Linked DNA regions of Homo sapiens: region 2 is linked to region 1. A link means that fine-mapping ties the variant in region 1 to the expression of a gene that starts in the linked region. Tissue or cell type: whole blood. Region 1 holds a variant in brackets; the other region holds the start of a gene. All regions are shown on one strand. Distances are from middle to middle.

Region 1 (2,908 bases):
TCAGGTCTGGCCACCTGTCCCAGGTGCTCATTCCTGCCCCTGTGCCTTTTCTCAGACTGTTGTTGACTCAGGATGACTGCACTGGGGATAAGACAGGGTCCTTGCACCTAGGAAGTATACAGAAACACAGTGCGATCCAGGAAGGTGAGGGAGGCCAGAGAGGAGAGTGACTGCCTGGGGCAGGGCAACCGGGGAAGGAAATTTTCCAAGTGGCTTTTTGAAACACACACGCATCCACAAACCACCCCCAAACAAAAAATAGATGTGCACAAGGCAAACACGTTAGCTGACATTGATCTCTTTTATGACACTGTACCCATTTTAGTTTTAAATAATATTTAGTCTTTGTTTATCCTCTTTTTGATTTTGCCTGTCATTATCCTATCTTATAAAATTTAGTTTCCGAACAAGAGCGTGACTCCTTGAAAGCAGAGATCTATCTTCTGTTTCTCCTTAACCTTTTCTGGGCACTTTGCTGAGCTTAGAATAATTGTGTAATAAACATTGGTTGATTTCATTAATAAGGTTGCAGCAGATGGCAGGTGCCTTGTGGATGAACCTTTAATACCCATTATCTTATCTACCTACTTTGAATGTAAGTTGCTTGGGGGTTTAGGATTTCATAGCATCTGTATAAACTTAAATGTCTAATATTCCGCTATGCTAGAATTCTGGGTCTACCTTATGTCATTTGATACTTTTATGCTTTGATATTTTGTTTCTGTGCATACTTTATATAACCTAAGGTATGTATTAATCTATTTAGGTCTAGAATTTTGAAAGCATTGTCCTTCAACTTAATGGGGTAAAATTAATTTAGAGAATTATGAGTCTAAATGCTGTATTATTGCAAAGTAGGATGCTTATCAGCAGTTACTACCCCAAATCACAAGATCTTTTTTTTTTTTTTTTTGAGACGGAGTCTCGCTCTGTCGCCCAGGCTGGAGTGCAGTGGCGCGATCTCAGCTCACTGCAAGCTCCGCCTCGCGGGTTCATGCCATTCTCCTGCCTCAGCCTCCCCAGTAGCTGGGACTACGGTGCCCGCCACCGCGCCTGGCTAATTTTTTGTGTTTTTAGTAGAGACGGGGTTTCACTGTGTTAGCCAGGATGGTCTCGACCAAATCACAAGACTTTAAACCCAGATCTTTCCTGAATAGGAAGCTGGCTTGGGTGAAGAGAATATTACCTAGTTCTTGGGAGTTCAGCAGACTTTTTTCTGTTAGTCAGTTCCAAGTTCTTGTTGGTTTTCTCCATTGTTGAACAAGTTCACAAATCCTTCCTCTTAGGAGATGGTCTTTTCTGTTTTTACAAAGAAGATCAGGAATGTGAGCACTGTTAGGTTTTCCCTCTTAGACCGCTGCTTTTACCCATCCTCTCTGAAAAAGAAGACATGTGCGTGTGTTAGGAGGTCGTTGCCTCCCTGCCACTCTTAGTCTTCCGTGGCCCTCCCCTCCTCTCTCTGCCTGCCAAGCTCAGTGAGCTCCGCCTCTGCGTTTTCCTGCCTCCCCGCGGCTCCGGTGCCAGTGCCCCTCGCTGCCCTCCGCGTGCTTGCCCACGGCTCTGGCCTTCC[C/T]GTTGTCCGCCCTGCGCTCAGCTTCCCGAGCTCTATCTACTCCGTTCCACGTGGTGCGGCCAGGATAACTTGCCCAGAACGCATGGATGACTAAGCCGCTTTTCTGCTTAGATGGAGTTTTCAGTGGCTCCTTAATGCGTGTCAAGCCGCGGTCCCATCGAAGCCCTCAGTCCTTTCACGATGTGGTCCCAATCTAAATTTCCAACCTTGTCGCTTACTTTCTGTCCCCATTTTACTCTTGTAGGCGATTTGGGCAGCGTGTTGTTAAACCGATTCTGCTTCTGTTCTTCCCTTCTGGGGGAGGAACTTTTATATTCGTTCTTCAAAGCCTCCGCTCAAGTTCTGTTTTCTTCACAAAGCCTTTCAGAATTCATCTGTTATTTCTGTAGGACTTTGTTTCTAGCACTGTTTTGACGCTTTGCACATTTTGCCCTAACCCAGTATTTTCCCCAGATGTTCCCTGAGATGCGTTTTGGGTTGAAAATGGCTCATGACGTCTACGAGGTTTCGCGTGTACAGGGCTTTCTGTCCCCACAACGGGAGATTAAAGGCACGGGGAGGAAAATACGCTGCTTAGCTTGGTTTACTCCAGGCTTCCTCAAACTTATTTACCATAGAAAAACGTTTTTTTCTTACAAAATATGAACACCCAGTGCAGAATGCTTTGGAAGAATGCTGCCTTAAACTAGATGTCTCGGTGGCCTGCCTCCCGTGCAGATTGAAAGCTCCTCGAAGGCAGCTACTGGGCTTTGTTTATTTTTCCCGCCTGGAGCTCCTTGTAGATATTTAACGTTTACTGAATGAAGTCATATTGCATGATCAGGGATCTATGTTTCTTTCTTTTCTTTTCTTTTTTTCTTTTTTTTTTTTTTTTTTTTTTGAGACGGAGTTTCCCTTTTGTTGCCCAGGCTGGAGTGCAATGGCTCGATCTCGGCTCACCGCAACCTCTGCCTCCCGGGTACAAGCGATCTTCCTGCCTGAGCCTCTTGAGTAGCTGGGATTACAAGCATGGGCCACCATACCCGGCTAATTTTTTTGTATTTGTAGTAGAGATGGGTTTTCTCCATGTTGTTCAGGCTGGTCTCAAACTCCCGACCTCAGGTTACCTGCCCGCCTCGGCCTCCCAAAGTGCTGGGATTACAGGCGTGAGCCACCACGCCCGACCTAATTTTTTGTAATTTTAATAGAGATGGGGTTTCACCATGTTCGCCAGGCTAGTCTTGAACTCCTGACCTCAAGTGATCTGCCCGCCTTGGCCTCCCAAAGTGCTGGGATTACAGGCGTGAGCTACCATGCCTCGTGGATCAGTGTTTCTTTGGAGGCCTGAGGTATGAATAT
Region 2 (2,908 bases), 61 kb after region 1:
CTCACTGCAAGCTCCGCTTCCCGGGTTCACGCCATTCTCCTGCCTCAGCCTCCCGAGTAGCTGGGACTACAGGCGCCCGCCACCGCGCCCGGCTAATTTTCTGTATTTTTAGTAGAGACGGGGTTTCACCGTGTTAGCCAGGATGGTCTCGATCTCCTGACCTCATGATCCACCCGCCTCGGCCTCCCAAAGTGCTGGGATTACAGGCGTGAGCCACCGCGCCTGGCCTATTGCTGGATTTTTAACATACAACTCCTTCAAATTATTTATTCAAATATTATTTTGGAATATTAAAAATATATTTTTAGAATAGTAATTCAAATGTTTAGTTTTTGTTTTTTTTTTTTCTATTTTGTTAACACGTTCTTGATGTGCTGAAAACTGAACATTCAGTGGTTCACTCGTTCAGTAAACAGTTTTTGGGCACCTGAACTTGGTTGTGCTAGGCACTGGGTAATCAAAGTTTAAGCCCCAAGTTCTTCCAATAGCAAATAGTACAGCTGCATGCCACTAGCTTCTTACACACAGGTGGGTGACATACATGCCAAATGAAAATAATTTTACCCTTTCCCTCTATAATTTCAAGTACACTTTTAATTTTTGATATTATAGCCCTATTTGCTTAAACACTCTTCCATCTCTTCTCCTCTCCTTGTCTCCTTTTTTTCTTTTCTTTTTTTTTTTTTTTTTTGAGACAAAGTCTCACTCTGTTGCCCAGGCTGGAGTGCAGTGTCACGATCTTGGCTCACTGCATCCTCCTCCTCTCAGGTTCAAGCAATTCTCCCACCTCAGCCTCCTGAGTAGCTGGGACTACAGGCGTGCGCTACCACACCAGGCTAATTTATGTATTTTTAGTAGAGATGGGGTTTCACCATGCTGGCCAGGCTGGTCTTGAACTCTTGACCTCAAGTGATCCGCCTGCTTCGACTAGGATTACAGGTGTGAGCCACTACACCCGGCCCCCTCGTTTTTTTAAATAAAATTATAACATTAGGTGGGAAAAAACACTTTAAAAGTAGTTCTGTCAACTATTTTGGGGGCTGTGGGCCAGTCATTTAATCCATCTGAACCTGTTTCCTCTGCTGTGAAAGGGTGATACCCTCCTTGCCCTGTCCATCTCAGTTGTTATGGGGATTATGGAAGAAGCTATATGTAACATTAACATCAGAAATTTAAATATCCAGTTAAAGTGTAAATGGATATTATAAAACAATCTTTAAAAGAAACAAAGACACTATATATATATATATGGCTTATGCATCACTAGCACTTTGGGTTTCCGAAACCCCAACATGAAGTTTCACGAAAGTTGCATTCCATGGGAGTTTGCTTCCATGATGGATTTTTTACTTTGTACTTAGCTCCTGAAAAAGAAACTTCCTGGGTTTTCTTTTTTCCTCCTACGGTTTTGCAGCGGCTTGGCTGCTTCCTGTCAAGAGCCACTCTGCCAAGGCCCCGTCTCTAGAGTCTCTCCCCCTCCCCTTTCTCTTTCTTTCCAACACTTGCTACATTGAGAGGCTGATCCTGTGCAGAAGCCCTCCCTGCCTCGGCAGCGCGGCGCAGTGAGCATGCTCGGCCTCCTGCGGGAAGAGGAAGCGGCGGCATAGGAGTCATGCCAAGCATAGCCCTCATGTCAGCGCTGCCGGCTTGCAGCGGGCTGTGAGAGGGGCCGGCGCCGCTTTGTCCTAGGAAACGGGCTGCGCGTTTCTCTTTTTCACTCTTTTCCATTTCCAGGAAGGACTTGTAAGGACTTCTGAAACGCTGTTTTCATACTCGATCGGGGATACAGTACATACACCGTCTACCAGTAAGCCCTTGAAGGGTTTCGTGTGAGCTCGATTTTTTTGTGCCTGATTTTTTTTTTTTTAACTTTTGCATACTTTGTTTTGATAGTCTGAGGCTGGGCCTCTGCCTTTGTGAAGTTGAAGAGCCAGGAGCTACTCAGCAACAATTGATTTTTGAAACTTAACTCTTTTGGGGCAAAAGCAAAGAGCTGGTTTTCTTTGCTAGCCCAATAAATGCTATTTATGAAGATGGACCTGTTGAACTATCAGTACTTGGACAAGATGAACAACAATATCGGCATTCTGTGCTACGAAGGTAGATGTCCCGTTGTAGAATTACTGCCCGTTGCTCGTCCCGGCCACTCCTCCTCAGTGTGCTGGGTGCCTGCCTTCTAAGCGCCCGCTGTCCTCCTCCGGGGTGTAGGGCACTTGAAAGGCCGGCGTTTCTTAGGTTCGGTTCGGCACCGAGTGTGTTCGGATCTCAGGCTGCGGGGGGCGGTGGAGGGGGCTGGACGGGGAGGCAGTGAAGTAGAAACCCTTCAAAGTTTGCTCGTTGCTTGCAACGTACTCGCGCCTCACATTTTTAACTCTTTAAAATGTATGTATTTTTGATTTCCGTTAATATTGTCTTTAGGGGAAGGACTTGTAGGACGCCGGTAAAAGTTGAGCCTCTTTGGGGGAGGGGCTGGTAAGGATTGCACCGTCTACTGTACCCTGCTGTGGGCCACGGCGCCCTGCAGCTCACGGAGGGGGAGCCAAAGTTACAGCGAGTTTTTGTGCTCGCGAGTGAGCGTCCCAAACAGCGGAGAATGTCCCTCTCCCGCGTGGGGCCGGAAGGGCACCGTGTCAGCGAGCACAGGCGGGCTCTTTGTCTCGCTGGCGCTTCCTGTGCAGCCCGGGGAGCGCTGACACTGGGGGGTGTTCCTCGCGCTCCGCTCCCTGTGGGAGCGATTACACAACACCCCGACCCCCAGCCTGCCCTGAAAAAGAGAGAGCCGCGCCGAACTGTTATTTATTACCTCCTACTGCCCGCGAGGTGCTTCCCCCACTGTCTTGTATTTCCAACTGTCTCTGGTAGCAGTCAGAGAAAAATCTATTTCTTAAGCCCTCGGACATCCTCTACG

The links.
Region 2: it holds the start of VGLL4, and the variant in region 1 is fine-mapped to the expression of VGLL4 in whole blood (INTERVAL, PIP above 0.99). The same link has a PIP of 0.9 or more in platelets.

The regions. Positions count from the first base shown.
Region 1 is chr3:11,703,926-11,706,833 of GRCh38, reverse strand. It overlaps a transcript of VGLL4 not described here. Among named protein-coding and RNA genes, the nearest start is that of VGLL4, 61 kb to the right of the region's middle. RefSeq lists a silencer at 1,345-1,639. The variant C/T (reference allele first, on the strand shown) is at 1,571.
Region 2 is chr3:11,642,629-11,645,536 of GRCh38, reverse strand. VGLL4 (vestigial like family member 4) reads left to right here and starts at 1,622. Exons shown (of 5, transcript NM_001128219.3): 1 at 1,622-2,100. The coding sequence starts at 2,019. RefSeq lists enhancers at 1,399-1,478, 2,669-2,908.